Homo sapiens: one gene and its partners. The protein of the gene in region 3 purifies or fractionates together with the protein of the main gene of each other region. This does not show direct contact. Each region holds a gene or a part of one and is shown on either strand. Other genes may lie near its edges. The genes, in order: ATP11C, CLCC1, SEMA7A and TMEM214.

Region 1 (7,023 bases), on a different chromosome or scaffold from region 3:
TACAAAACATAGACCACAAAAATAAGCTAAAATGTATTTAAACTGTCATTTAAACAGAAATCCAATAAACATAGTCATTTTCAACATTTCTCTGCTTACTTATTGGTGGGGGAAGGAGTATAGGCTCACCATTGCATTACGTTCCACATGGACTTTAGTTAACTCAATTTCATGATTTTGCACTCTGGGAAAAACTGCCGAGTCTGCTCCTTTACAAAAGAGAAGTATGTCTCCTAAAATAAAGAACCATAGTACTTGACTTAGAATTTTAAGGCTGGTATTGTGGTTTTAGTAAGAGTAACTTTTAAAGCGGTCTCTCTCACCCAAGTGTTGTATATTCTGAGCACACCTTGCAATACTCACCTAAATGGAATGAGAAATCTTGGCCTTCAGTCTGTCAGAAAGGCATGTACCACCTCTTCAAGGTCATTATGAACACAATTAATAAGCCAGAGTTTACAATAGGCACCTCTGTTAAAATATACTTCCTCCCACCAATTCATGGAGGGCTGGGCTTGTGTCAAGGAGCTGCATCTGAATTTCTTCTGAAAATGTATGCCAGGTGCAGTGGCTCATGCCTGTAATCCCAGCATTGTGGGAGGCTGAAGTGGGAGGATCACTTAAGCTCAGGAGTTCAAGACCAGCCTGGGCAACACAGGGAGACCCTGACTCTACTAAAAATTAAAAAATTAGCCAGGCATGGTGGTACACACCTATAGACCCAACTACGCTGGATGCTGAGGTGGAAGGATTGCTTGAGCCCAGGATGTCAAGGCTGCAGTGAGCTATAATCTTGCCACTCCAGCCTAGATGACAGAGTAATACCGTGTCTTAAAAAAAAAAAAATGCAGTGAAGCCATGGCCTAGAGCACACATATGGCATCTACAGATGTCAAGAAGAAAGCTCAAGCTCAAACAAGCTGAAATAATTTTGAATAAACTATATTAACTAGCTTCTAAAACAATGGCTTGATAGTTTTTACTGATGAGAATAGCTTTGTAGAATGCTGGTATAATTGCAGCTTTAGATCACTTCACACACCCAGGAAATATTCACAGTTGTGCACTAAGACAGACACTTTATCCTTATAAGGGAAACAACCGAGGTCAACAAATTAAAAAGTGTAGCTCTGAGGTCAATGACCTTTGTAGACCAGTTCCACAGACATTTCACCATTTGCTGTAGAACATGTGGACATGCACACATAAGAATAGCAAGTATTTGAAATGTTGTGTTTTTTTTTTCATTTATTCTTACACATCCAAAGTGTATTTTAAAATTCACAAAACAAACTCCATGGTCACTTATTAAAATCAATTTCATGACTTTGCAATCACACCACAAAGTATGAATTAAGTGGGATATGTTCCCCCAAGGATCTGTCTGTATCCTCCCATTCTGACATTAAGGAATTTAGAAAATTTAATAGTAAAACGTAAATTACTGGGAAATAAATCAAAAATTTTTAGAAAACAAACCACCTCGGCACACCACACACACACGTATCTGAGAGCCTTCGAATAAAGCAGGATTGCTCGCCCATGGGTCTTGCAGAATCTGAGCAGAAGGCAAACCACCATGGTGCCTCCAAAGACATGAGGGAGCCCAGGATTACAGTACCAGTTCCCCTGCAAAGGGCAAGCTTTACTCTGCTCAACAAAGAACCTGAGCTCTGGAGTGAAACTGCAATGCCATTTCCCAGAAACCAGGCCCTTAGTCCTCTCTACCTCACCTGTTTCCAGGGAGTGTCAAGCAGTAGGGGAACCAGGAAGGTCAGTGAGGGATAACAAGCAACTCCCTATACTCAAGGATTCTGCTGCTAGTAATCCCAAACCATCCAACTATGCTGGGTGGCTGCATGTAAACATTACTGGTAGACTGGTCAGTACCCTGAACCATATAAAAGTCATCCTTTCAGTTCCTGTTCGAACACCCAAGGCAGAGGGATATGGTTCTGCTACCAAGAAAAGGCACACCCTGTCATAACAAGGGTTCTGTCACTAACAATTTGGTAAACAGAACATCTGTGCTTAAAAAAATACATGAAAGCATATGCAAAAGCTACTGCTTTGCATGACTTTCACTAATCCTACACTACTACATGAAATGATTCTCTTTCCTGAAAGAGTGAATCAACCAATAAGCCTACAAATCAACAAAGAGAAAAATTCAAGCTTTTCAGACATGTACCTTCTTGAGTCTTCACAATTACACTCATACGTCGCCGGACAGCATCAAAGTTTAAGGTGTGAAGAAGTTCATATCTTTAAGAGAAATGAGCAAAGTAAAAAACCTAGAATATACTGAGAAAAATAAAGCACAACAGAAATATGTTAAGATATTTAAACATCTTAAATCAACAGATAGCACTGGTTGTGTGCACAACTGGTACTTTCCTTTGTCTCAGAATTTCTCTGAACATAGAACATGCTGTCAGAGGACACCAGTGTTAGTTAAGGGGTATTTATAGCCCCTCAGTATATTACTTAAAATGGTAAGGAGAATGACCACATAAAAATGGAAGATAAAGAGCTGTCCCACCAAGCCATATTTGGAGGGGTCTAGAAACAGTCCCACTCTGCCAATTATTTTAGCAGCATTTATGTATGGAGTGCCAGGCACAGTGCTAGGTGCTGGGGAATAGAGGTGAATCTGCCTGAGTCCCTTCCCTTATGCGGGTCACCATATGATAAGGGAGACAGAGCATAATGAGATAACTACCCTTCTAGTTTCTCAAATACTGTAATAAAGGCACTTACAGGGAAGATATAAGAACACAGAAGGAAGTCATCTGAAAGGAGGTTTCCTGGAAGAGGACATGCCTGAGCTGGGTTCTGCAAGGGTAATATGATGAAGAAAGGGGGCCATGGCATTCTGAGTAGAGGGAATGAGCACGGCAGCATGAGAGCACATGGCCCATGGAAGACTTTAAGTAGTTCACCAATGCCCAAAAAACTCATCAATAGGGGAATAGTAAGAGATAAAGCAAGAAAGGTAAGCAGGGGCTGGAAACACATCTTTGTGAGCCATTTCTGGAATTTGGGATTGTATTGTAAGAGCAAAAGAAAGCCAATAAAAGGGTTTAAACAGTGGAATGACATGATGAGACTGGTCAAATGTGTGTGTGGATGGCTGAACTAATCAATGGAGAGACACAGAAGAGTTAAAATAAGAGTTGGTTATTAGAAAAAGTGAGAGGAAATATTTCCTTGAAAATAAACAACTAGTATTTTTTAAAAAAAGTATTTACTACATAGCTTGTTTTGGTGGGAGTGAGGGGGTCATTAGTCTTGCGGGAGTATATGTATAAGACATCTAACATGGCATCTGGTTTGCTGTTGGCCAGATGTGGGCACTGTTGCAGATGGGCTAGAATCTAAACTCTGACAATGACCCTGGGTCCCTGTCAGTCAGACCAAGAACCTTCCTCTGGGCTTCTATGAATCTCTCTCCAAAAGGGTGCATTACCCAAGTACCTGTAAACATATTACAGGTTTCTGAGATGGGTCTCAGGAGATCCTAGGGGCCAGAATGAAAGTCAGATAACATAATTATATTTCAAGTTCAGATGAGGAAATTCAAATTAATCACAGAGCCTAATTAAAATCCACCATTAAGATAAGGTGGCTTTGTTCATTAGGGTCTTTGTGGCAAAAGAGGAAATGTGAAGACACTGGAGCATCAGAGTACTTGCCCCGAGGCTCACACCTGAACATTCCGAACCAAACAAGGCTTCTGGTTTACAGCAAAGCTGCCTTTATTGCCTGGGCTTGCAATCCCAGAGTGATTGCTTGGACACTAGATAGCAGAAGGTTTCACATATATTCACTGATTTTTCCTGTAGCATGTGTTAGAGACCTGAAATGGCATCTAAATTTGAGAAACATTCCAGGCAAACTCTCATTCTGGCTACTGGACCCAGATGTGAACCAGATTGGAATTTCCACCTCAAACTCCAGTTTCTGCAATTCTATGTAACATGGCTTCTACCCCAACTATATTTACATAAAACTCTGAACTGGGAGAGCAGGGTCCTGTATTTTTAGTGGCATCATTTCCTTTGCTGCCCTGCCTGAATCCACTTAAATTTGACTATGGGGTTAAGAAATGACAAACATCAAACACAGAGCTACTTACTCTTCTATTTCTTTTCTTTGGTTCTCTACTCTCATATATCCATTTCGATTTCCTAAAAATGTGAACCCGTACCTATCAAAAACAATAAAAAAGACCTTGTGTATCTCTAAAGAATGATTAATTTTTTTATTATTATTTTTTTTGAGACAGAGTCTCGCTCTGTTGCCCAGGCTGGAGTGCAGTGGCGCGATCTCGGCTCACTGCAACCTTCACCTCCCAGTTTCAAGCGATTCTCCTGCCTCAACCTCCTGAGTAGCTGAGATTACAGGTGTGTGTCACCACACCCGGCTGATTTTTGTATTTTTAGTAGAGACAGAGTTTCACCATGTTGGCCAGGCTGGTCTTGAACTCCTGACCTCAGGTGATCCACCCGCCTTGGCCTCCCAAAGTGCTGGGATTACAGGCGTGAGCCACCGCACCTGGTCTAGAATGATTACTTTCAATGGGGTAACTCATGCTTGTTTATGCTTTTCTTCTCTTTCATATGATCTCAACATATAACTGTACTTTCTTTTCCTGGATAAGTTGATAACAGAGAAAGTCAATGCCCAGCCACAATTATTGTAACCAAGGGAGAGACAATTTGGGTTTCTGATTCTACGGCTAACACACTGGGTGACCTTTGAGCCACTTAATTATCTTGAACCTCATGGGTAAAACTGGACTTTCGGTTCTCAAATGATGTCAAAATTGCTGGGAGCACCTCAGAAATAACATGTGTTGTACAAAAAGTGGCCACTGTTATGTTATTTGCAAAACATAGTATGAACATTCAGACTTCTGGCTGGCATGCATAAATAGTAAGGCAAGTAATACCTACCTGTAACTATTTTCTTTTTAGTCTTAACTGGTTAGGTGTGGGAATTTTCCACAAATTTTTGGCTAAAGCAGTTGTGTTTTTTATTAAATAATAGGAGATGTATGTGCTAAGGTCACTGAAGCAAACGGAAAAAAACAAATAACTTCTGTCCTCCTGTGATTTCACTTTCTTAGGAGAAGTATAAGAAAGTATACTTTACCTTTTAGCTCCTTTCACCAAAGCTATTTCATCTGGTGAAGAGGAGATATAGGTTAATTCAGCTGATTCTGTAGCTCCATCAACAGCATCGTTTGTTTTGATTTCTACAGTATGACATAAACACAAGGCACGTAGAAACAGCTCTTCTCGATTCTGTGGAACAGCAACAAAATAATGATTATTATTTTTAATTTGATCACCCGGTAACTAGGCAGTGAACGGAGAAAATATATTAATGTGAGAGAATGTTGTAACTTCTAACAAACTTAGTAGCAGATACGTATAAATTCTTAACACTCAAATCTGCTATATATTCTCCTAGTACCTAATAAGAGTTCCTGGTTCTCAGCTAGCATACCCTATAGGCTGTGTTAACTCATTAAGGTTATTGTGGCACCACCTAAGCCAAAGCAGTGACTTCTTCATGGCCTAAAAAACTTCATTCAGTATCTAATTCACAATCTAGCAATAGCTCAAGTGTAGGGAGACTCTGGTTAATTTAATGCCTAGACACTCCTGAGACTTTAATCATTTGAACAGACATCATTCTTGGAGGAGCTTACATTTTAAAAGACAAAGCACAAAAAATTATGATCATACAGACAAGCAAGCTTTTACCCAAATGTCATTTCCCACAATTCTCTTTACTTGTAAATTCTACTCATTTACAAATTTCAGAAGTGTCAGTAAAACAAGAAAGGTGAATCCAACAATAGTTATTCTAAAGTCACTGGGCACAGTGGCTCATGCCTGTAATCCCAGCACTTTGGGGGACGGAGGGTGGTGGATTACCTGAGGTCAGGAGTTTGAGACCAGCCTGACCAACATGGTGAAACTCCGTTTCTACTAAAAATACAAAAAAATTAGCCAGGCATGGTGGCAGGCGCCTGTAATCCCAGCTACTCGGGAGGCTGAGGCAGGAGAATCGCTTGAACCTGGGAAGCGGAGGTTGCAGTGAGCTGAGATCATGCCACCGTACTCCAGCCTGGGCAACAGAGTGAGACTCCATCTCAAAAAAAAAAAACAAAAACACAAAAGTCTATGTCATGTGTCCACCTAAAAATTATTTTCTACTATGGAATGTTAACATGCATACACAGATTGGTTTCTTATATAAAACAATAATGCAAATGCACCTTATCTACTTTGTCAAAATATGTTAAAGTTCCATCAGTTTGAGATAATCCATCAACCTCTTGAGTTACACCTTTATATTTGTGGCCATCTATGCAGCATTCAATGAATTCCATGCTGTTTTCAGTGAGTGTTCCAGTCTTATCTGTAAATACATAATCCACCTAAAACAAGGACACAAACATATATTGTTAGTTTCTTCAGTGTGACTAATTTTTAGTTTGCTGTAACGCAAAGCTATTTTCATATCCATAGGAAATCACCCCTTCTAAGACTTCTTGTCAAATGTCAGGGAATTACAGAGACAATATTACCAAAGAAATGAGGAATAAATGAGTATTTTTAAAGACACCAAAATGCTATCACATGTCTAAGGTAGATCTACTCAAATGTAAAAGATGAATAGAAAAAAATGTGACTATTGGCCAGGCACGGTGGCTTATGCCTGTAGTCCCAGCACTTTGGGAGGCTGAGGCAGGAGGATTGCTTGAGCTCAGGAGTTCAAGACCAGCCTGGCCAACATGGTGAAACCCCGTCTCTACTAGAAATACAAAAATTAGCTGGGTGTGGTGGCACACACCTGAAATCCCAGCTACTTGGGAGGCTGAGGCACAAGAATTGCTTGAATCCAGGAGACAAAGGTTGCAGTGAGCTGAGATCACATCACTATACTCCAACCTGGGTGATAGAGTGAGACTCTGTCTCAGGAAAAAAAAAAAAAAGTGACTATTTT
Region 2 (7,064 bases), on a different chromosome or scaffold from region 3:
TTTCAGAGAATGACAGTGAGAAGCCTAATTCTCTAAGTGGTTAAGAAGTAGGTGACAAAGGGAGTGTGTAAACTGGAGAGAGGCTCCAAGATGGGAGTGCATGAAATTAAGGTTACGGGAAGGGTTCTTCATAGGCAATGAGGTTATATACTCCATAAATAGAAATGAATGAAGATGGATGAAGACAAAATTTCTAAAGTAAAAAGAGAAACTGACAGATTTCATATTATAATATGATATGAAGTGGACAGAGAAATTAAGAGTAATTTGCATTTCTAACACTGTGAGGAGGTTAGGATGGGGGAAACGGAGATTTGGAGGGGAAAAAAGGTACTACAGGAGGCATTATACAAAGGGAAGTGAATAAAAAGCCTGTCAAGCAGTTGAGATTTTTTTTTCTTTTTTATAGAGACAGGGTCTTGCTATGTTGCCCAGGCTAGTCCCGAACTCCTGAGCTCAAAGGATCCCCCTGCCCGCCGCCTTGTCTTCCCAAAGTGCTGGGATTACAGGTGAGCCACTGTGCCAGCCAGGCAGTTGAGTTTTGACTGTGACATCCACAAAGTCGTACTATTGGCAACTATGTTACTTTCTACAGTAATAACCAGCAGTTCCATAGATTTCTCCAGGGATAGAGATTAGCAATGCAGAAATGATGGAAGACAGGAGGGTAAGACAGAATAGAAGAATCAGCTAGAAATTCAAGCCCTCCTGCCAGATCCCCATGGTCACTGATTGAAGGCTGGAACTCCTTGAGAAATCCTAAAACGAATCTCACACTTCCTCCAAACAAAGCTACATCTAAACCTGCTGAAGAGTTTGTTAAAAAAAAAAAAAAACGATTCTGATTCAGTAAATCTGAGGTAGGTCTGAGATCTCCACTTCTAACAAGCTCCTGGTGATGCCGCAGACCACACTCTTGAGTAGCAAAGTGTTAATCGAAAGTAACCATCCTAGCTAGTTTCGTTTAATGGTGGCACCTATGTCATTCTAGTACTTGTCAGGGGACACTACTCTTTCTCTCTCCCGCAGTCCCTACTATTTTTACCATTTCTCTCCTGTCTCAGGCTTCGGTACTAATAATTTTTAAATTATAATATGTATAATAGTAGCTAAAGGCCGGGCACGGTGGCTCACGCTTGTAATCCCAGCACCTTGGGAGGCCAAGGCGGGCGCATCACCTGAGGTTGGGAGCTCCAGCCCAGCCTGACCACCATGGAGAAACCCTGTCTCTACTAAAAATACAAAAGTAGCAGGGCGTGGTGGCGCATGCCTGTAATCCCAGCTACTCGGGAGGCTGGGGCAGGAGAATTGCTTGAACCCAGAGAGTGCAGGTTGCGGTGAGCCGAGATCGCGCCATTGCACTCCAGCCTGGGCAACAAGAGCAAAACTCCGTCTAAAAAAAAAAAAGTAGCTAATATTTTGTTACTATGTGCTAAGCACTGTTACATTAATTTAATCCTCACAAAACTACTGGAAGTAGTACTCTTATCTTCACTCATCTTCATTTTACAGATCACACAAAGTAACTTGCCTAAGACCACCAAGCTAGTAAGTGGTAGAACCCAGACTGGCTCTACCTAAACTGCCTCTCCAGGGCAAAAGTACTAATGGCTCTCAGGGGCTTCTCTGAGAGGATAGGGTCTTAGAGTGGAGAGGACCTGTTGGAACGACATCTCCACAGAGCGGGAAATAGGGAGAGTAGTTTATAGTAGCTACTAGACTGGAGAACTACCAGGAAACACAGATCGTCGTGCAGACGGCCAGGCAGTGAGTAGAAATGGGCACAAAAGAAAAAGTCTTTGGTTTCAACGAAAGCACATGAGTAATGGGAAAGGCAAGACTAACCTGGATTAGTAGAGTCAAATCCTGTTTTAGACTAGAAGTACCAGGGTATAAGTCGGGAGGCTGCAACTTATTTCGTATGCTTATGCAGTTTCTTGGAACCATGGCTCTCAAACTTGCGAATTTGCATTTTTAACAATTTCCCAGATGACGATAAAGCTAGTCTGGGAAGAACACTTCATAATCACTATTATAAAGAAAACCTGAATTGTTTTTCACCACCCAGTAATAAACCTACAGCTTATGGTGTGTCTAACTTTTTACACTCAAATCAGATTTGGAGCCAGGCGCAATGGCTCACGCTTGTAATCCCAGCACTTTGGGAGGCCAAGATGGGAAGATCCTTTGAGCCCAGGAGTCAGAGACAAGCCTGGACAACACAGGGAGACCCCTTCTCTACAAATAAAATTTACAAATTAGCCGGGCCTGGTGGCGCGCACCTGTGGTCCCATCTACTCAGGTGGCTGAGGCAGGAGAATCGCTGGAACCCGGAAGGCGGAGGTTGCCGTGAGCGGAGATAGCACCACCGCACTCCAGCCTGGGTGACACAGCAAGACTCCGTCTCAAAAAAAAAAAAAAAATCCATTTTGGAGGTTGTTTTGTGTCCGTTTTTGTTGTTGTTGTTAACTGTGTTAATTCACAGATTTGAAGTTTTAGAAAATTAACTACAACTAAATCCGAGCTATTCTGCTGACAGCATTTATTCAAATTATGCTTAAAGTTTTCAGAGATAACCAAAGCCAACAGAATTCAACGTGCGCTCAGGTCTCGCTTTGCCCTCGCTGTGCCTTCTCCGTAGGCCGCTCTCTGGGCCAAGCACCTCCCCGGAACGCGCGCAACCGCGGCGGACAGGCAGCCGCCGGCGCGGGAGCTGAGGTAGGAGCCCGGGGCACCCACAGGCCGCAGCGGACGCACGCAGCTAGCACGGTCCCCGCCCCGGGTCGCGCCTGCGGCCTCCCCAGCGTCTGCGCCGCGAGTCCGCTGGACCCGCCAGGGCGTAACGGCGGGTAACCCGCCCCACCCGCCGCACAACACACCCAACTGCACGGACTCACGTCCGGGATCCCCTGCCTGCCTCTCGAGGAAGACACCTGCCCAGGCCGGCCGCAGAAGAGGTCGCACAGCTTGCCGCCGCCCAGGGTTTCAGCGTGCTTCCTGGGCCTCGTCATCGAATTGTTCGGCTGACGGCTGCGTGTCCCTCCCCCGTTGCGGGCCGCTGATTGGCCTCGTTGATTGGGCGGGGCTAGTAGCGGGACCGGCCTCTGCGCGCGGGTTATTTTCGCCGCGGATTTTCTTTTACTTTTCATCTGCGGAACTCTTTCTGCGAAGGAAATCTCGCCTGGAACTCAAATATATACAACGGATAGGAAACCTATTTTCTTACTATTAATATATTTGATAAGTTTGAATGTGTAACATTCGCCATGAAACGCAAGCATGATTTTTTTTTTTTTGAGGCAGAGTCTCACAGTGTTGCCCAGGCTGGAGTGCAGTGGCGCGATCTCGGCTCGGCTCACTGCAACCTCTGCCTCCCGGGTTCAAGCAATTCTCCTCTCTCAGCCTCCCGAGCAGCTGGGACTACAAGCGCGCACCACCACATCCAGCTAATGTGTATTTTTAGCAGAGACAGGGTTTCACCATGTTGGCTAGGCTGGTCTCGAACTCCTGACCTCAGGTGATCCGCCCGCCTCGGCCTCCCAAAATGCTGGGATTACAGGTGTAAGCCACCGCGCCTAGCCACAAGCATAATTTTTTAAAGGGAGGATCACGAATGACAACTGTAGTTCTACTCAGGGCAGGACAAGGGAAAGGTCTGCACACTGTAGGGCAGTTGGAAGTAGTTTTGTTTTTGTCTTTAACTGCTGGCCTTGCAATCTCGGGAAACTGTGAAGATGGTAAAATTTACTATCTTAACCATTTTTAAAGGTACAATTCAGTGGTATTAGATACATTCACATTGTTATGCAACCATTACCACCATCCATCTCCAGCACTCATCTTGCAAAACTGAAACTCTGTACCCAGTAAGTGGTAACGCCTCATTCTTCCCCTCCCTCCTTCCCAGCGACTACCATTCTTTCTGTCTTTATGAATTTGACTACTCTAGGTATTTCATATAAGGACTCATACAGCATTTGTCTTTTTGTAACTGATTTCACTTACCATAATGTCCTCAAGGTTCATCCATGTGGTAACGTGTCAGAATTTCTTTTAAGGCTGAATAGTATTCCATTTTATGTATATACCAGTTCATTCAGTCATCTGTTAATGGATAACAGGTTGTTTCCACTTTTGGCTACTGTGAAATAATACTGTAAACATGGATATACAAATATCTGTTTTTTAACCCTTTTGGGTATACACACAGATGTTCAAATATCTGTTGCTTTCAACTCCTGAATATATATACACAAGTGGAATTGCTGGATTATGTAGTAATTCTATTTTTAATTTTTTGAGGATCTGCCGTACTTTTTTTTTTTTTGAGATGGAGTTTCACTCTTGTTGCCCAGGCTGGAGTGCAGTGGTACGATCTCGGCTCACCACAACCTCTGCCTCCCGGGTTCAAGCGATTCTCCTGCCTCAGCCTCTTGAGTAGCTGTGACTACAGGCGTTTGCCACCATGCCTGGCTAATTTTTGTATTTTTAGTAGAGATGGGGTTTCACTATGTTGACCAGGCTGGTCTCGAACTCCTGACCTCGTTATCCACCCACCTCGACCTGCCAAAGTGCTGGGATTACACGCATGAGCCACTGCGCCCGGCGGAACTGCCATTCTCTTTTCCATAGTGGCTGCAACATTTTACATTCCCTCCAAGAGTGCACAAGTTCCAATTTCCCCACATCTCCACTGACATCTTTTTATTTTTGTATAGTAGCCATCTTAATAGGTGTGAGGTATCTCACTGTGGTCTTGATTTGCCTTTCGCTAATGACCAGTGATGTTGAGCATCTTTTCTTGTGCTTATTGGTCATGCCATTTGTATATGTTTGTTGGAGAAATGTCTATTCAAGTCCTTTACCCATTTGTTTTGTTTGTTTTATTTTGTTTTGTTAAGAGACAGGGTCTCGCTTTGTCACCCAGGCTGAAGTGCAGTGTCATGATCATGGCCCACTGCAGCCTTGAACTCCTGGCTTTGCCCATTTTTTAATGGGTTTTTGTTGTGTTTTGGTTCCTTATATATTCTGGATATTAACCACCTTATCAGATAGGATTTGCAAATATCTTCTCCCACTTTTTCTTTTCTTTTTTTTTTTAGAGACAGGGTCTCCCTGTATTGCCCAGGCTGGTGTCAAACTCCTGGGTTCAAGTGATCCTCCTGCCACAGCCTTCCAAAGTGTTGGGATTACAGGCATGAGCCACCATGCCCGGCCCCATCTTCTCCCTCTTAGTGGGTTGCCTTTTCACTCTGTTGTGTCCTTTGGCTTCTTACTATAAAACGAAAATAAAATTCTAAGCCCCCCAACCAACTGAATAGGCCCATCCTCTCAGCCAAGGGCATTCTAAAGTAAACCTGAGGCCAGTTGCAGTGGCTCATGCCTGTAATCTCAGCCCTTTGGGATGCCAAGGCAGGTGAATCACTTAAGGGCAGGAGTTCAAGACCAGCCTGGCCAACATGGTGAAACCCTGTCTCTAGTAAAATCACAAAAATTAGGCAGGCAAAGCGGTGGGCCCGTAATGCCAGCTACTTGGGAGGCTGAGGCAGGAGAATCGCTTGAACCTGGAAGGTGGGTGTTGCAGTGAGCTGAGATCATGCCATTGCACTCCAGCCTGGGTGACAAAGCGAGACTCTGTCTCAGGAAAAAAAAAAAAAACAGAGACCTTAACACTGACACACTTTGTAGCAGTAAGATACCAATGTGACAGCAGGTCCATCCCCCCACCCCCACCTCTGAGTTGTCCCATCTTTCTGAACTGAACCAATGTATATTTAACATGTATTGATTGATGTCTTACGCTCCCTAAAATGTATATAAAACCATGCTGTAGCCCAAACACCTTGGGCACATCTTCTCAGGATCTCCTGAGGCTATGTCATGGGCCATGGTCACTTAAATTTGGCTCAGAATAAATCTCTTCAAATATTTTACAGAGTTTGACTCCGTCGACATTACAATTTTGGAAAAGTAAACATTTTAAAAATAAAATTTGGGGGCAGATGTGGTGTCTCATGCCTGTAATGCTAGCATTTTGGGTGACCAAGATGGGAGGACTGTTAAGAGGCCAGGAGTTTGAGACCAGCCTAGGCAACATAGTGAGACACCCATCTCTATAAAAAAAATTAGCCCCACATTGTGGCATGTGCCTGTAGTCCTAGCTACTCGGGAGGCTGAGTGAGGCAGGAGGATCATTTGAGCACAGGAGTTCTAGGCTATAGTGAGCAAGACTTTGTCAATATAACACAATGCAATAGAAAAATTAAACATTTTAAAAATAGAAATAATCTCTCAACTTGAGGCAACACACACACACACACACACACACACACACACACACACACACACATAAAATTGGAACAGACCTCTAAATGTCCTCCCTGGGAATAATTAAGAACCTCTGCACTACCCATCCACCCCAATTCCCCTTCCTTGCACTGCCAAATGAGATGGACCCCAAGAGTATAGATACTTCAGTCCTCTCATTTTCTCTTTTATGTGAACCTCAAAGAACCTAGTCACCCCATGCAGAAGACATGTGGAGACAAACAAAAAAGGACATATGTAACCAGCTATTTACTGAAGCAAATATAACAATTTCTGGTGCTTATTATTTTGAGAGGGAGTCTTGCTCTGTCGCCCAGGCTGGAGTGCAGTGGCACAATCTTGACTCACTGCAACCTCCACCTCCCGCATTCAAGCGATTCTCCTGCCTCAGCCTCTCGAGTAGCTGAGATTACAGGCACATGCCACCACAGCCGGCTGATCTTTTTTTTTTTTTTTTTTTTAAGACAGGGTTGCACCATTGTTGACTAAAAGAGTCAAACTCTGTAAAATATTTGAAGAGATTTATTCTGAGCCAAATATGAGTGACCATGGCCCGTGATACAGCCCTCGGGGTCCTGAGAACATGTGCCCAAGGTGGTCAGGGTACAGATTAGTTTTACATATTTTAGGGAGGCATGAGACATCAATCAAATACATTTAACAAATACATTGGTTTGGCTTAGAAAGCCGGGACAACTCAAAGCAGGGGCTTCCAGGCTATAGGTAAATTTAAACAT
Region 3 (7,419 bases):
TGAGACTGGGGATATGGGTTCTGTTTCCCCATGGACAGGCTGGTTCACCTCTGACCTTGGGGTTCCAAGCCTTCTTTAGCTCCTCCAACCACTGATAAAATGGAAGAGGGGTGCACAGCTTACAAACGCATGCCAACCTCCTGCTAAGCCCCAGCCCTCACCTGCAATCTACTCCCTTACAGTTCCTGCTTACAGGAAGATCAGGACCACACATGCACATCCTTGACTGGCCCATGTGTCAGTGACAGCCCTTGGGGGACAATCCCTACAGCCTTTCTTGCTCTGGCAGGCTCTAAGGGTCAAAGACAAGTGTGGAGCTCAAGGACACCCAGCAGGTACATGATGGCCCATCTCTCTCCCTGGCCTGAGCTACGCTGTGCCAGACTTTCATCAAGCTGCAGAGGCAGCAATCTCCCTGATCAGTGCAGGCTGGGCCCCTCTCAGAGTTCCCTGCTTTAATCTTTCTCTAGAACTTGGGGATCCAAGCAGCAGAAAATAAAGAACTTTCCATACCTATTCCAGTCCCCACAGCTGTCCTGACTCAAAACTAAAACCCCCATCTATGCCTCATAGAGAAATGGCTCCAGAACCACCACCATCCCTGATTTTGTCATTCCTGGATACCACCATACTCCCACCCACCACTGGTAGACAGAGCTCTAGGCTTCCAGAAAGACCCCCTCTTACCCTGTTCCTGGGTTTGTCCTACCCAAGCCCATTCCTGTCCGATTGCCATGTGTCACCCCACAGGAGACAGGAGGCAGCTGTCAGTCGGGCACACCATCACCAGCTGGTGGCCCTGGGGGTGGGGGGCAGGTGAATGGCAGGGCCTGTCTGGCCAGTGGGGCACCTGGCACTGGTGAAGGAGACCACAGACTGTCGTTGGACAAGACTGGTGAACGGTTGGCAGACCCCAGCCAGCGGGGCTCAACAGTGCATTACTAAGCAGAGGGCACAGCCAGTGTGGCTACAGCAGTGAACTGCGGGCGGGGGGGTAGGCCATGGAGCTGTGCTGGGAGCTTCGAAAAGTGGGTAAGAGGACTGAAAGCAACTTTAAATAGCCTCAGGGTGGGAACTAAGTGCCCAGGATGGGATGTATGCATTAAGTGCTAAGAAGTGGGTGTGCATTAAGTGGGGTGGGGGTGGGGGGTCATGGGAAGACTTTGGGACAGGCAAACAGAGTCAAAATGCAAGGGGTTTGATGGAGGGAAAGATTCCAGAACACTCAGATGTGGCCATTTGTCCCCTCCAGAGTGCCCACACGCTATGATGTCCAAGACAGCCAAGGAGACTGAGGGAAGGCAAAGCTGCTGGGAGGGCAAAGGAAGCTTGGGCTGGAGCTGGGATGGCAGAGGGGTGTGCAGGCCTCCTCCATGTACAGGCGGCCGGAGCTCTAGCAGCACTGCTCGGCTTCCTCCAGGAGCACCTCAGGCTGGGTAGCCGAGCTGGTCCCCAGAGCACCTCATTCATGGTCCCTGAACCACCTAAATCCTTCTCCCCTCCCTAACCCAGAACCTGGACTGGTCCTGTGCCAGATCAGAGCCCCTGCCTGCACCTGGGCTCCCACACTGCTCAGTGACCTTGGGCAAGTCACATTCCCTCAGCTACTGCGGCAGTTCGGGCCACTCGTTTTGTGTATGGTTTTTTTTCCCCTCTGCTAATAATACCTGCCCCAGATAATGCTCAGACTCCCGCAATCCCTGCAAACTGCCAAAGGCATCAAAAGGCTCCCGGTGGGGCCAGACCCGACCAGTTCCCCCAGCCCCCACTGCGAGTCCCCCACCATCACGACAGGGGGGCCGCAGACACGCCAAATTTGGGGACAGAGCCGAATCGGACTGGGGGCGGGGAGGCATTTGTGTGCAATGCAGGGGAGGGGAGATCAGTTCCTCGCGGCAGAAAGCCTCAAACCCCCGCCTAACCGGCTTTCTGTCCCATAGTACAGGGTCTAAACTGAGGTGCCCTGGGGGAGACTCCAGTCCCCCAGGTTCTTATTATCTACCCTGGCCTAAAGGCTGCACCCCCGCCCTAGATCCACCGCCTGGGGGTCCCAACGGCCGTGCCCCACCCAACGGGCACTGCCCCCCAACGCTGGAGCCGATTTCTGGTGACAACTGCCACGTGCGGGCAAGGGGGGAGCGGCCGGTCCCGGCATTGCTGAGGCAGCGCCCTGGTACCCCAAGCCGCCGCACCGCACCATGTCCCGCCGCTCGCTGCAGGATGCCCACCCCCTTGCCTGGCCCGAGCTCCGGGCCGGGGCGGGGGCGGGGGCAGGCGGCGGGGTCTTTGTTCCCGCTGCCGAAGCGCGGCGGCGGCGGCAAGGGGTCCGCGCCCCCCTTGCCGGCCCAGCCTGCGCCCCGCGCGCCAGCAGAGCCCGCAGCTCAAAAGGAGGGTACCCGGGTTGGGGTCCCAGGCGGGGAAAGGTCCTCCGCCGAAGCCCCCGAGCCAGAGGACCCAGAGTGGCTCGGGGCCGAGAGAGGGGCCCGCCCCCTCCCCTGGCGCCCGGGCGTTGCGGCTCCTGGCTGCCAGGGACTTGGTGCGACTTAGCCGGGGCTCCGGCCCCCGCCGCTCGCTCGCCGCAGCGTTACAGCCGGCTCTGGTGTGCCAGCGTGTACACTCACACACACTCACCCAAACCCACACGCTCCACGCGGGGACAGCGCGGGGACAGCCCGGGACCCGCAGAGCTGCGCGCACGCACTCCCTCCGGGTGCAGCACACTCCGCACCCGCCCCGCGCAGCGTCTGATCCCGCGCCTGACCGGCCGCGCGGCGCCGCCTACCTTTCCAGACGGCGAAGATGCGGGGTCCGCTCCTTAGGTGGCCCTGGGCGGAGGCGGCGGCCGCCCAGAGCAGCAGCAGCAGCCGCAGCCGCAGCGGAAGCCCCAACCGAGCCGGCGGGCCAGGGACGCGGGCGCGCGGTGCGCTGGGGGCGGCACGTCCGGGCGGAGGAGGCGTCATCCCGTGGCCCCGGGAGCGACAGCGGCAATCAGCCGAGACTGAGCCAGCGCCCGGCCGCAGGCAGACCCAAGCGCCAGGAGGCGGAGCCAGCGCTGACCCCACCCCGCCCCTCCCCCCGCCCCTCGCAGCCTTTTCTCGCCTCACTGGCTTTCCTGAGCGAGAGCGGAACTGCTGGGGGAACCTTCGCCACCCTCTCCCGGGCAACTCTACGGGGAAAGCCCAGCTGCGGACAAGCCAGACTTGTGGTCTTCTGCCAGGGGCGGCAGGCCCTATCCCCTCTCTGGGCCTCAGTTCCACTCCCCGCACCCCGTAAAAAGATTGGCGTAGAAGTCGTGGAGGACCTCTCTCCAAGGGCGCAGAGGAGTCCAACACCCAACAACCTTGCTATGGCCAGCTAAGTGGTTCGCACCCTGAGGACTATGGTCCTCGGAGGATGCGTTCGCCTAAGTGGACACGGCTCCCTGCTGAGCCTACCAGCAGGCACAACGATGATATGTGGGGAGCACTCAGGGACCCGCTGTTGCTTTGCCTGGGAGAACACTGGAAATTTTTCATCTTGGCCTGGCTCCTTCCCCTCCCTCTCCTTTCTCCTCCCTTTCCCAGCCAGCAGCCTTCTGGGCTGCCTCCCCCCAAGCCAGCTGGTGTACGCTCAGAAAATCCAAACTCATTTCCATGTGAGTGGAGGGGGATATAATTAGGAAGGCCCCTTCCCCAAGTAGAGAGGGGAGCATCCCCCGTGCCCCACTCACTGTGGGGGAGGGAGGGTCAAAGCAGCTTAAGGGGATCTCTGCCCGCAAAGTGCCTAGGGCTCAGCTATCTCAGGCAACCTGACCATTCAGTGGGGACTCCCTTGGGGGGTCCAGGCCCAGACCCTCTGCAGTTACCTGAGCAGTCCAGCCAGCTCTGCCATCAGCTCCTCCTCTCAGAACTACGTGCCTGCCCTTTGTAAAAGGGTCTCCTCTCTCTAGACCAGACAGGGCCCAGACCTACCACTTCCACTTGTGCCCCAGGGAACCATGAATGGAAAATCCACCCAGCTCAGTAAGTACTTATCTAGTGTTTACTGGATGTCTAGCTGCACTGAGAGGAGACAGGCCGAGGAAGGAGTAGAGGTGAACATCCAACCTTCAGAACTCACAGACCTAGACACGATTCACGCACTGCAGACACCAGCAAAGGCGGTGGGCTGGCTGCCCTCTGCCCTCTGCCCTGCTCCATGGGGCCAGGACCATTTGGTTGTTGTTTTTACCTCCTGGAACCAGGAAAGTTTTGCTACCAAGAAGTTTGGCTTTACCATTCTACATTTTGCTTCCAGTTGTCCCCTCCTTCTTCCCTCAGAGTCCTGAGGCACCCCAGCAGGCCAGGAAGGTAAACTCAAGGTACCTCCAGAGACAGTGCAGAGTGAGGTTCCTGGCCCACTGGGTGAAGCCAACAGCCTCCTGATACACAGGGGCACACTGCCCCAGAGAGGGAGGCTGTGGACAGTCTAAGAGCTCCTCCTCAGGCCTGCACCTAAGCCTGTGGCCCTGAAGCCAGCAGTGGAGCCTGGCCCAGGCCAGCCTCTAAGATGGACATTCGGTTTCACCTGCTAGACAGGTATTGCCCTCAGTGTCTGTCCTCTCTATGCAAAGCTAGGGCAAACTAAGAAATCACCTGTCTCTGCCTTTTGGAACTAAGAATTCAAATGGATTCAAAATCAATGATAACACTGCCCATGTGCATGGCAACTCACAACACATAACCCACATTCACCTACCTCATCTCTGCCAGTCCTCCACTCTCTTCCTCTCACTGAGGGAGGGAGCGTAACTCCACTGCAGAGAAGAAAACTGAGGTACAGGGAGGGACAAGGACGGACCTGCCCGAGGTCAACCGGTAAATGGTAGAACGAAGATGGGTTTTCTGACTGCAATAACAATTGCTAACACTGTGGTTCCTATGTGCTGTGCCATCTCATAGCCTCTCCCAACTCATTCAATCTTCGCACTCCTATGAGATAGGAGCTATTAGTCACCTCCCTTTACAAATGAAGAAATCAAGGCACAGACAAGGGATGTGAAGTGCCAGGATCGCACAACTAGAGGCAGGACGGATTGAAACTCAGGTGGTTTCTCAAGGACCCACACCCTTGACTTCTCTCTGTGTGATGTACCCTGGCACTGCTGCCTCCTGTCTGTGGCTGAAGTCTGGGTCCAAACCATCCCCAGAAGGACCTAGATAGGGCCCAGGTCACCAGGTGCTGAGTAGGAGGGCAGACCAGGGAATGGGCTCAATCTCCCAATCAACAGAGTAGCAGATGGAAACTGGGGTAGATGCCAGATAATTTTTTTTCCAGACTGGGGGGTAGGGGGGAAGGAAGTAGTACTTAAGACCATCCTCCCCACAAGCCAGCCAACCTGGGGACAAAGGGCCAGGCGAGATGGCAGCCCACTCTCTCGGTTGGCTGCAGGCAGCCAGGGGAGGAGAGAACTAAGCCCATGACTTGAGGCAATAACTTTATAAAGGGAAAGGCAGCTAGACTGTGGGGCAGGCACTATGACCAGAGTTTAGGCATGGACTTTCCTGCCTCAGGCAGCATAGGAAAATCAAGTCAGAATGGTATAGGTGGTGTCAGAGGCCTGCCTGCCTCATTGGAGGCCAAGGCTGGCTCTTGAGCCTGGACCAAGAACAGGGGCACAATTCCCACTCACAGCCAGTGATGGGAAGTGGACCAGCAGAGGAAGCAACACATGTGGATGCTGACACGTCTGATGGGGAGGCACATTCTTGTCCCTCCCTTCTCCATGATTCCACATTCAGGGGAGGGAGGAAGAAATGATGCAGGGCTTCTATCGATAAGAAAAATACCTTGAGAAGGATCACTTCCTGAGCCCCATGGACAGCTGAGGCACAGCCCAATCCAAGAAGGCTCCTTTTGGAATGAAAGAAATGGATACACACAGACCTGAGATTCATGGTCTTGAAGCAGTGGCAGAAGCCCCGGGCAATCCCCCCAACATTCCAACTAAAGCCTCTCACCTTTCAGGGTCCAACTTAACTCATCCTTCCATTCTCCAGAGTTATCTGACCTCCTCCTCAGCCCTGATTCCATGGCTACACATGGCCTTCACAGGAGTGACCCACCTCAAACAAGAGGCCTGTGGGAGATAGAAGGATTCCGTGAGGAGATAACATATGCAGACGTGAGGTCACCCACACACAGTTCACTTCCTTTCACAGATACGATGATCCAAGAATCCCAATTCTTAGGATTAGAAGTAGCTCTCAGAGGGCATTCAATCCCCAACAGCCCCCTCCATGCTAGATCCCACCCCTTCTTTGAGGCCTCAGAGCTTGGTGGCCATTCAGACCTCCTGGCTACTAACAGCAGCAACAATTCCTATTGCCTACCACCATTACTACCTATTGCAGGGGGCAGAGACTTGGAACTGATGAGAACGAGGGGAGTGGGTGGGCTGGGGTCTGCAGAACCCTGTGCTGTCTATAAGGCAATTTCGACTCAGCTCCAGCCCATGGAACCATGAAGAAGTAAACCCAGTAGTGAAAGGTAGTATGATTTTCAAGAGAAGCTGAAAATTGAGGGCTGGGCACGGTGGCTCATGCCTGTAATCCCAGCACTTTGGGAGGCCAAGGCAGGTGGATCACCTGAGGTCAGGAGTTCAAGATCAGCCTGCACAATATGGTGAAACCCCATCTCTACTAAAAAATACAAAAATTAGCCGGGCATGGTAGCGAGCGCCTGTAATTCCAGCTACTTGGGAGGCTGAGGCAGGAAAATCACTTAAACCCAGGAGGCGGAGGTTGCAGTGAACCAAGATCGCACCACTGCACTCCAGCATGGGACACAAGAGTGAAACTCTGTCTCAAAAAAAAAAAAAAGAAAAGAAAAGAAAAAAGAGGCCAGGGGTGGTGGCTCACGGCTGTAATCCCAGAACTTTGGGAGACCGAGGTGGGTGGATCACAAGGTCAATGATTTCTGTCCTAATCATTCTACATGCATTTTTATCTGACAAGGTCAGGAGTTCGAGACCAGCCTGGCCAAAATGGTGAAACCCCATTTCTACTAAAAATGTAAACATTAGCCGGGCATGGTGGCACGCAACTGTAATCCCAGCTACTTGGGAGGCTGAGGCAGGAGAATCACTTGAACCTGGGAGGTGGAGGTTGCAGTGAGCTGAGATTGCGCCATTGCACTCCAGCCTGGGTGACAGGGCGAGACTCCATCAAAAAAAAGAAAAGAAAATTGACTCTTTGTTGAAACTCTCTCTTTTAAAATATTGGCAAATAATTCAAAAGTTAAGGAGGATGGATATGGGCAAATAAAAACAGGTCTGGGGCCCATATCTGGGACCCCCAACATACCATGTGCCCACTGTGACTATCTCACAGGCACAGGCACGACAGTCACTATACCTGGCCCAACTCTTGGCAGACCATGTCAGGCAAGGAGTGCCAAGAA
Region 4 (7,210 bases), on a different chromosome or scaffold from region 3:
ACTGAAACCCTGTCTCAAAAAAAAAAAAAAAAGAAAAAAAAGTTGCAGATGGAATTCAGGAAGTTAATCTGCTGACCTTAAAATAGGGAGAGTGTCCTGGTTTATCCAGGTGGGTCCAATGTCATCGCAAACGTTTATAAGAGTGGAAGCAGGAGGCAGAAAGGGTCAGAGTGGGCAGGGTGTGGTGGCTCATGTCTGTAATCCCACCATTTTGGGAGGCCAAGGCAGGAGGATCACTTGAGCGCAGGAGTTGGAGACTAGCCTGGACAACAGCGAGACCCCATCTTTACAAAAAATAGAAAAATTAGCCGAGCATGGTACTACATGCCTGTAGTCCCAGCTACTTGGGAGGCTGAGATGGAAGGATCATTTGAGCCCTGGAGGTCAAGGGTGCAGTGAGCCATAATCATGTCACTGCACTTCAGCCTGGGCAACAGAGCAAGATCCTGTCTCAGAAAAATAAAAGAAGAGGTCAAAGTGAAACAATGTGAGAGTGACTCACCCACTGTTGTTGGCTTTGAAGACAGAAGGGAGCCATGAACTCAGGAATGCAGGTGGCCTCTAGAAGCTGGGCAAGGCAAGGAAATGGATGCTCCCCCAAAGCCTCCAGAAAGGAACCCAGCCCTGCTGACACCTCGATTCTAGCCCAGGGAGACCTGAGTTAGACTCCTGCCCTCCAGAACTGGAAGATAACGCCCTTGTTTTAAGCCACTAAGTTTGTGGCAATTTGTTTTAGCAGCAATAGAAACGTAGTACAGTGGGTAAAACAGTGCTTCGGTGAGCTCACCCTTCTGCTTGCTCCCACACTAGACACCCATGTCCTCCTTGACCCAACATCTTTTGGGTCTTCAAACCCCACGGCGGGGCCTACCCAAGCCCACCTCCGTGGCTAGTGTCTAAGGCTGCTCTTCAAACACCCAGAACTTAAGGATGTAAAGCCACTCCCTTCTCCCCACCTCTTCCTGGTACCTCATACTAAGTGCTTCTTTCCTCTGGAACACTAAGATGGTGAACTGTAATTTTCTGTTTATACATTTGTCCCCCACACAGACTTCAAGTTCCTTACAAGCAAGTGAGCTATATCTTCCAGCTCCACCTAGCACAGGGCCTGACACAGAGAAGGTGCTTAGAAAAGGTTGCTGGATAAGTAAATGCATGATTTATATGTCCTAGATGCCAAGTTAGAACTGGTAACTTACTAGACTATTCCAATGAAAGATAGAGTCCCTCTCCCACCCTTCTGTGTGTCTCCACCATGGGGCAGCCCCCTCATTTGCCTCAATGGAAAGCCAGTTCTGTTTCTCTTCCAAAAACATGGTCTCTTCTGTGATCATACATGTGACACAGGAGGGGTCAAACAAAGAGAAGATATTGTTGTTGGTCTCCTGAGTACACCTAAACCAATGATCTGCAAAATGAATTGATTAATGATCAGTTCAAATATGGTCCTTGGCAAAGGCACTGTATCTCAGAGCTACCGGATGCAAAGTCAGCCATGGTCAGGCCTAAGGGGGCTGGAGGACAGGTAGAAGGAGGCAGCAAGATATGCTCATCTCCCACCCCCTGCCTTCCCCTACCAACACTTCACACAGCCACATTTACCCTTCCAAAAGAGTGGATTATGCCACCCTCTCACTGGTCTCCCAGGGCCTGAAGGATAAAGTCCAGATTTGGCAGGCAAGTTCCTTGGCATATGGGCTCAGATCCCTTTCCAAACTCATAAGAGGCTATTGTTGCATTGCTATAAAGAAACATCTAGACTGGGTAATTTATAAGAAAAGAAGTTTAATTGGCTCACAGTTCTGCAGACTGTATAGGAAGCATAATGCTGACATCTGCTTCTAGGGAAGCCTCAGGAAGCTTACAATCATGGCGGAAGGCAAAGGGGGAGCAGGCACATCACATGGTAAAAGCAGGAGCGAGCAAGCGAGCGAGAGAGAGAGGTGGTGGGGAGGTGCCACACACTTTTAAATGACCAGATCTCATGAGAACTGGGATCCACCATGAGGGATCCACCACCATGATCCAAACACTTCCCACCAGGCCCAACTGCCAGCGCTGGGGATTACAATTCAACATGAGACTTGGGCAGGGACAAAAATCCAAACTATATCAAACCTCATCACCTCCAAAGTCCCATCAAGCACTGTCCCATTGAACTGCTTCCAGTTTACCACCCTCTAGGCCTTTGTTTTACATCAACAGATCCACACAACTGGCATTTTCTCTCCACCCACCCTAACCCTCAGCCAGTGAACATTCAATTTTGTTTTTTGTTGTTGTTGTTGTTTTGGGTTTTTTGAGACGGAGTTTAGCTCTTGTTGCCCAGGTTGGAGTGCAGTGGCACAATCTCGGCTCACTGCAACCTCCGCCTCCAAGGTTCAAGCGATTCTCCTGCCTCAGCCTCCCAAGTAGCTGAGATTATAGGCCTGCGCCATCATACCTGGCTACTTTTTTGTATTTAGTAGAGATGGGGTTTCACCATGTTGGCCTGACTGGTTTCGAACTCCTGACCTCAGGTGATACCCACCTCGGCCTCCCGAAGTGCTGGGATTACAGGCGTGAGCCACGGCGCCCGGGGAACCAATGAAAATGCTATTTCTCAGAACCTATCTCAGCTGCCGTCTCCTTCGGGAAGCTAAACTCCTTCCTAAGGAATGCATCGCTCCCTCAGCTGTTCATCCTGTAGGAATTTGGACTCTCTTAGTTCTTATCATAATACCTCAGTATGGCAGGTAGGAATCTCATCCTCACACACAGTTGTACATGAAATAGCACATTTCCTTAATTGTGATAAGTCACTTTGATTTTATCTTCCCTCATTCTCCTCTGCTGGCATGCTTCAAGGTTCTGAAGGCTCCCAGGATACTAACACCCTCCACGTGGATGTCTGAGCAGGAACCTGTCTGCAGATGCCTCAAGTCTGGGGCTCTCCATCGCTTCCCTGACACATCTGGAACTTGGGATTGACTCTTATGGTGGGAGGCAGAGCCTGTTCTTTCTCATTGCCTGGAAGGGGAAACCCGGCCCTGGCTGTCCCAGACCCCCAGACTTTTCTCAGCCTCCCATGAGAAGAACTCAGAGGCCAGGAGCGGTGGCTCACTCCTGTAATCCCAGCACTTTGGGAGGCTGAAGAGGGTGGATCACTGAGCCCAGGAGTTTGAGATCAGCCTGGGCAACACAGCAAAACCCAGTCTCTACAAAAAATACCAAAGATTAGCCGGGGGTGGTGGTGGGTCAGGTGATCCGTGGTGGGGGATCACCTGAGCCCTAGAAGTTGAGGCTGCAGTGAGTCGTGATCGCGCCACTGAACTCCAGCCTGGGCGACAAAGCAAGATCCTGTCTCAAAAAAAAAAAAAAAAATTATTCTCCATTCTCCACCTCCTACCCCAGCTCCCCAACACTCTGCCCTTTCCTCAAGCCCCCATCCTCTTCCTTGTTCTTTGGCAATAGATTTGTATAGCCCATTAAACCCGAGGTTTAATCACTAGCAACAGTAAAGCCAGCACTTTCCTAGAAGGAAGGAAGCATTTAATCTTCAATCTCTCCCTAGATATGAGGAGCACTACTTCCCTTCCATCCTTCCAGCTCTACGAGAAAGGAAAGAAAAACAGTGGCCGGGCGCCGTGGCTCACGCCTGTAATCCCAGCACTTTGGGAGGCTGAGGGGTGGGGGTGGGGTGGGTCACTTTAGGTCAGGAGTTCGAGACCAGCCTAGCCAACATGGCGAAACCCCGTCTCTACTAAAAATACAAAAATTAGCTGGGCTTGGCAGCGGGAGCCTGTAGTCCCTGCTACTCGGGACGCTGAGGCACGAGAGTCGCTTGAACCTGGGTGGCGGAAGTTACAGTGAGCTGAGATCGCGCTACTGCACTCCAGTCTGGGCGACAGAGCGCGGCCCTGGCAATCAATCAATCAATTGATCAATAAAGGAAAGAAAAACAGAAACAGTTCTACCAAGTCTCTCAATGCCGTGGCCTTCACATCGACGCTCAATGAACGTTCTCAGAAGGGAATCTCCTCTCCTCCCGGCCTCTTCGCCTGGGCGGGGGCCGCAGGCTGCCGCGGAAGCCTCTTCCCGATGCTCTTCGCTCAGGAGAGCCCGGCCCAGGAGAGGGACTACAAGTCCCAGGCTGCCTTGCGGCGGGCGCCGGGCGCCGGGCGCGCGGTCCTGCGAGGAGACGTGGCAGAGTGCGGCGCGCTCGCGCCGGACCGGAAAGCCGGGGAAGTGGCCGAGGAGGGAGGGCTGCGAGCCATGGCGACCAAGACGGCGGGCGTGGGGCGGTGGGAGGTAGTGAAGAAGGGTCGGCGGCCTGGGGTCGGCGCCGGCGCCGGCGGCCGAGGAGGCGGCAGGAACCGCAGGGCGCTCGGGGAAGCAAACGGAGTGTGGAAATACGACCTGACCCGTGAGTACCCGCCCTGCCCCGCCGCCTACCCCAGGCCTGTCCGGCAGGGTCGCAGCGAGCGGCTCCCAGAACCTGGGCGCGAGCTCGCAGGCACATCCCCGAGCGCCACGCTTGCGTTGTCTCTTTGGAGCCTCACGGGAGGCAGACAGCTCCAGGGAAGGTTGCGGTCCTCACCTCCCAGATGAGTAAACTGAGGCCCAGTGAAGTTGGATACCTTGGCCAGGGTCATGTGTCAGAGGGGCTAGGATTCCGGTCCTCAGACTCTCAGTTCACTGCACACACTCTCCCAGCTGCCCAGGGCCCTAGCTGGTCTCTCTGGGCAGGTGTCTGAGCTTTGAAGAGGTACTGTGGATCATTATACACGGTGCCCCCTCTTTAAGTAACCAGCAGGTCATGGAGGAAGGGACAGGAGGCCCAGCAGTGGGAGAAATGACCGCCACACACTCAACACTCACCAGGAATTATAAGTGACACCTGGTTCTTCCACTGAGGAGTGGAGAAAGATTGCCACTTGTTGATTATAGAGTTGTCATGTCGGAACCAAGAGGCGTTAGGGTAGGACCAAGATGGAAAAAGCTTGTCTTCCCAGACTAGTAGCCACTCACTGAATAAGGCAAACCTCTATATCCAACCTCTCTGCTTGTTCCTACATACTCTGATTTGTCTAATGAAGAACTGCCCCATCTTTATGAAAGAGCCCATAGACTCAAGAGCTGTAATGAAAGAAGCTACCAGGAGAACAGCCTGCCCTGCTCCTTAAGCAGTCCAAGAGGAAGGGGCTTTGAGACAGGCTCTTCCCTGGAGATGAATTAGGTGGCAGTGTGGGGAAAGGGACCACTGATAGGTGAGGCCTTGGGGACTCAAGGGTGGCCTGCCTTTCTCTACCTATCTTCACCCCAGCTGCAATCCAGACCACAAGCACCCTTTATGAGCGGGGCTTTGAGAATATCATGAAGCGGCAGAATAAGGAGCAGGTCCCACCCCCTGCTGTGGAACCTAAGAAACCAGGGAACAAGAAGCAGCCAAAGAAGGTGGCAACTCCTCCCAACCAAAACCAGAAGCAGGGCCGCTTCCGCAGCCTGGAGGAAGCACTGAAAGCTGTGAGTGTGCCTAGACATGAGACGCAGAAAGAATGGGGGCTTGAGATTTAGAGAAGATGAGAGGAGGGGGAGGTGGATGGGCAGCTGAGATCCTATGGGATTTGAAACACTTTAAGGGTTGAGAGGAGTTCAGGAAAAGATGGAAACCCCAGGGGAACAGAATGCCTGCACTTAGAATAGAAAGGAAATGGAAAATTTATAGGGAAACATGGATTGGTAAGAGGAAAGCCTTGAAGACCCAGGAACACCAGGGAGGAGATGGAGAAACTGGTTATGATTCTCTGTCCTATGGAAATACTGATCTTTCATTTTCTGTCTTGTCCTCTGTTTTCCTCTTTTTTTTTTTTTTTTTTTGAGTTAGAGTCTCCCTCTGTCGCCCAGGCTGGTGTGCAGTGGTGTGATCTCAGCTCACTGCAACCTCTGTCTCCTGCCTCAGCCTCCCAAGCAGCTGGGATTACAGGCGTCTGCCACCACGCCTGGCTAATTTTTGTATTTTTAGTAGAGATGGGGTTTCACTACGTTGGCCAGGCTGGTCTTGAACTCCTGACCTCAGGTGATCCGCCCACCTTGGCCTCCCAAAGTGCTGGGATTACAGGCGTGAGCCACCGCGCCTGGCCCTCTGTTTTCCTCTTGAACATGTGGAGGGCCTGAGAGGATAGGGCCTGAGATCAGCATTTTCAGCTGTCCTGTTCCATTCTTAAAGATGTAGGTACAGCAGAATTGCAGCATTCCATGTTCTTATGCTTAAAAATGGAATCCCTTCTTCCTACTGCCACCTAGTTCAACCATTTTCCCACCCCTACCCCATTTCTTTACTCCCTCACTCACAACTCGCCATGGTGGGGGGTTGGGGGATTGTCCCTGGCAGCTGGATGTGGCAGACCTGCAGAAGGAACTGGACAAGAGCCAGAGTGTGTTCTCTGGAAACCCATCCATATGGTTGAAGGACCTGGCCAGCTATCTCAACTACAAGCTACAAGCTCCTCTAAGTGAACCCACGCTGAGCCAGCATACTCATGGTAAGTCCTTCCAGCTTCCTCAAGCTCAGACAAGTTCAAATAAATTCAAAAAGGGTGGTATAACAGATCCCAGTGCCCCACACTGTCCTGATTTCCATGGGTGATTTGGGCTGGTCTCAAATCATCGTGACTGTGAATGTTTCTGGGCCTCATTCTGTGATCCTCCCTCTGGGCCTCCTCAGAGGAAGGATCCCAGCCTCAGTGCAGGGGCCTTTGCCTCCACTCACCATTCCCAGGGAGAGCACCACAGTTCTCAGAGCTGATGGGTGTCTGGTCCTAGCACTCACATTGAGGCCTATGGGCCTTAGATTATCCCTACAGCCTGGTGAGCCGGGAGCTACGTGGGATCATCCGAGGGCTGCTGGCGAAGGCAGCAGGGTCTCTGGAGCTCTTTTTTGACCACTGTCTGTTCACCATGTTGCAAGAGCTGGATAAGACACCAGGTGAAAGGGGCACGGGAGGGATGACCATCTTGGGAGCCTCCTCCTTTTTTTCCTGCTTCCAGTACCACTCAGTGGTTCTGTTTCCAGCAGAGAAATGTGCTAACCTTAACACTTTTTGGAAAGTGTGGAGGAAGTTAGGAGTCAGTGGACCTGGGGCCTGGGCTCACCGCTGACAAATGGGAGATTTCAGGTTTGGGATGCCAAATAATGTGAGTAGGTGTGAGAATGTGTATCTCTCCAGGG

What was found.
Region 1: the proteins of SEMA7A (region 3) and ATP11C purify together in Homo sapiens (affinity purification with mass spectrometry; 2 studies listed by BioGRID and IntAct, with this or other methods). This does not show direct contact.
Region 2: the proteins of SEMA7A (region 3) and CLCC1 purify together in Homo sapiens (affinity purification with mass spectrometry; 2 studies listed by BioGRID and IntAct, with this or other methods). This does not show direct contact.
Region 4: the proteins of SEMA7A (region 3) and TMEM214 purify together in Homo sapiens (affinity purification with mass spectrometry; 2 studies listed by BioGRID and IntAct, with this or other methods). This does not show direct contact.

The regions. Positions count from the first base shown.
Region 1 is NC_000023.11:139,783,035-139,790,057, forward strand, and holds part of ATP11C (phospholipid-transporting ATPase IG), read right to left. Parts: intron 6,455-7,023; coding exon 6,293-6,454; intron 5,310-6,292; coding exon 5,158-5,309; intron 4,211-5,157; coding exon 4,139-4,210; intron 2,266-4,138; coding exon 2,192-2,265; intron 234-2,191; coding exon 130-233; intron 1-129. UniProt on the Homo sapiens protein: Catalytic component of a P4-ATPase flippase complex which catalyzes the hydrolysis of ATP coupled to the transport of aminophospholipids, phosphatidylserines (PS) and phosphatidylethanolamines (PE), from the outer to the inner leaflet of the plasma membrane.
Region 2 is NC_000001.11:108,960,464-108,967,527, forward strand, and holds the start of CLCC1 (chloride channel CLIC-like protein 1 isoform 1 precursor), read right to left. Parts: upstream 3,022-7,064; 5' UTR 2,898-3,021; intron 2,007-2,897; 5' UTR 1,846-2,006; intron 1-1,845. UniProt on the Homo sapiens protein: Anion-selective channel with Ca(2+)-dependent and voltage-independent gating. Permeable to small monovalent anions with selectivity for bromide > chloride > nitrate > fluoride.
Region 3 is NC_000015.10:74,430,959-74,438,377, forward strand, and holds the start of SEMA7A (semaphorin-7A isoform 1 preproprotein), read right to left. Parts: upstream 3,001-7,419; 5' UTR 2,961-3,000; coding exon 2,783-2,960; intron 2,747-2,782; exon of another isoform or gene 2,632-2,746; intron 1-2,631. UniProt on the Homo sapiens protein: Plays an important role in integrin-mediated signaling and functions both in regulating cell migration and immune responses.
Region 4 is NC_000002.12:27,028,762-27,035,971, forward strand, and holds the start of TMEM214 (transmembrane protein 214), read left to right. Parts: upstream 1-4,203; 5' UTR 4,204-4,254; coding exon 4,255-4,405; intron 4,406-5,305; coding exon 5,306-5,505; intron 5,506-6,373; coding exon 6,374-6,524; intron 6,525-6,832; coding exon 6,833-6,967; intron 6,968-7,208; coding exon 7,209-7,210. UniProt on the Homo sapiens protein: Critical mediator, in cooperation with CASP4, of endoplasmic reticulum-stress induced apoptosis. Required or the activation of CASP4 following endoplasmic reticulum stress.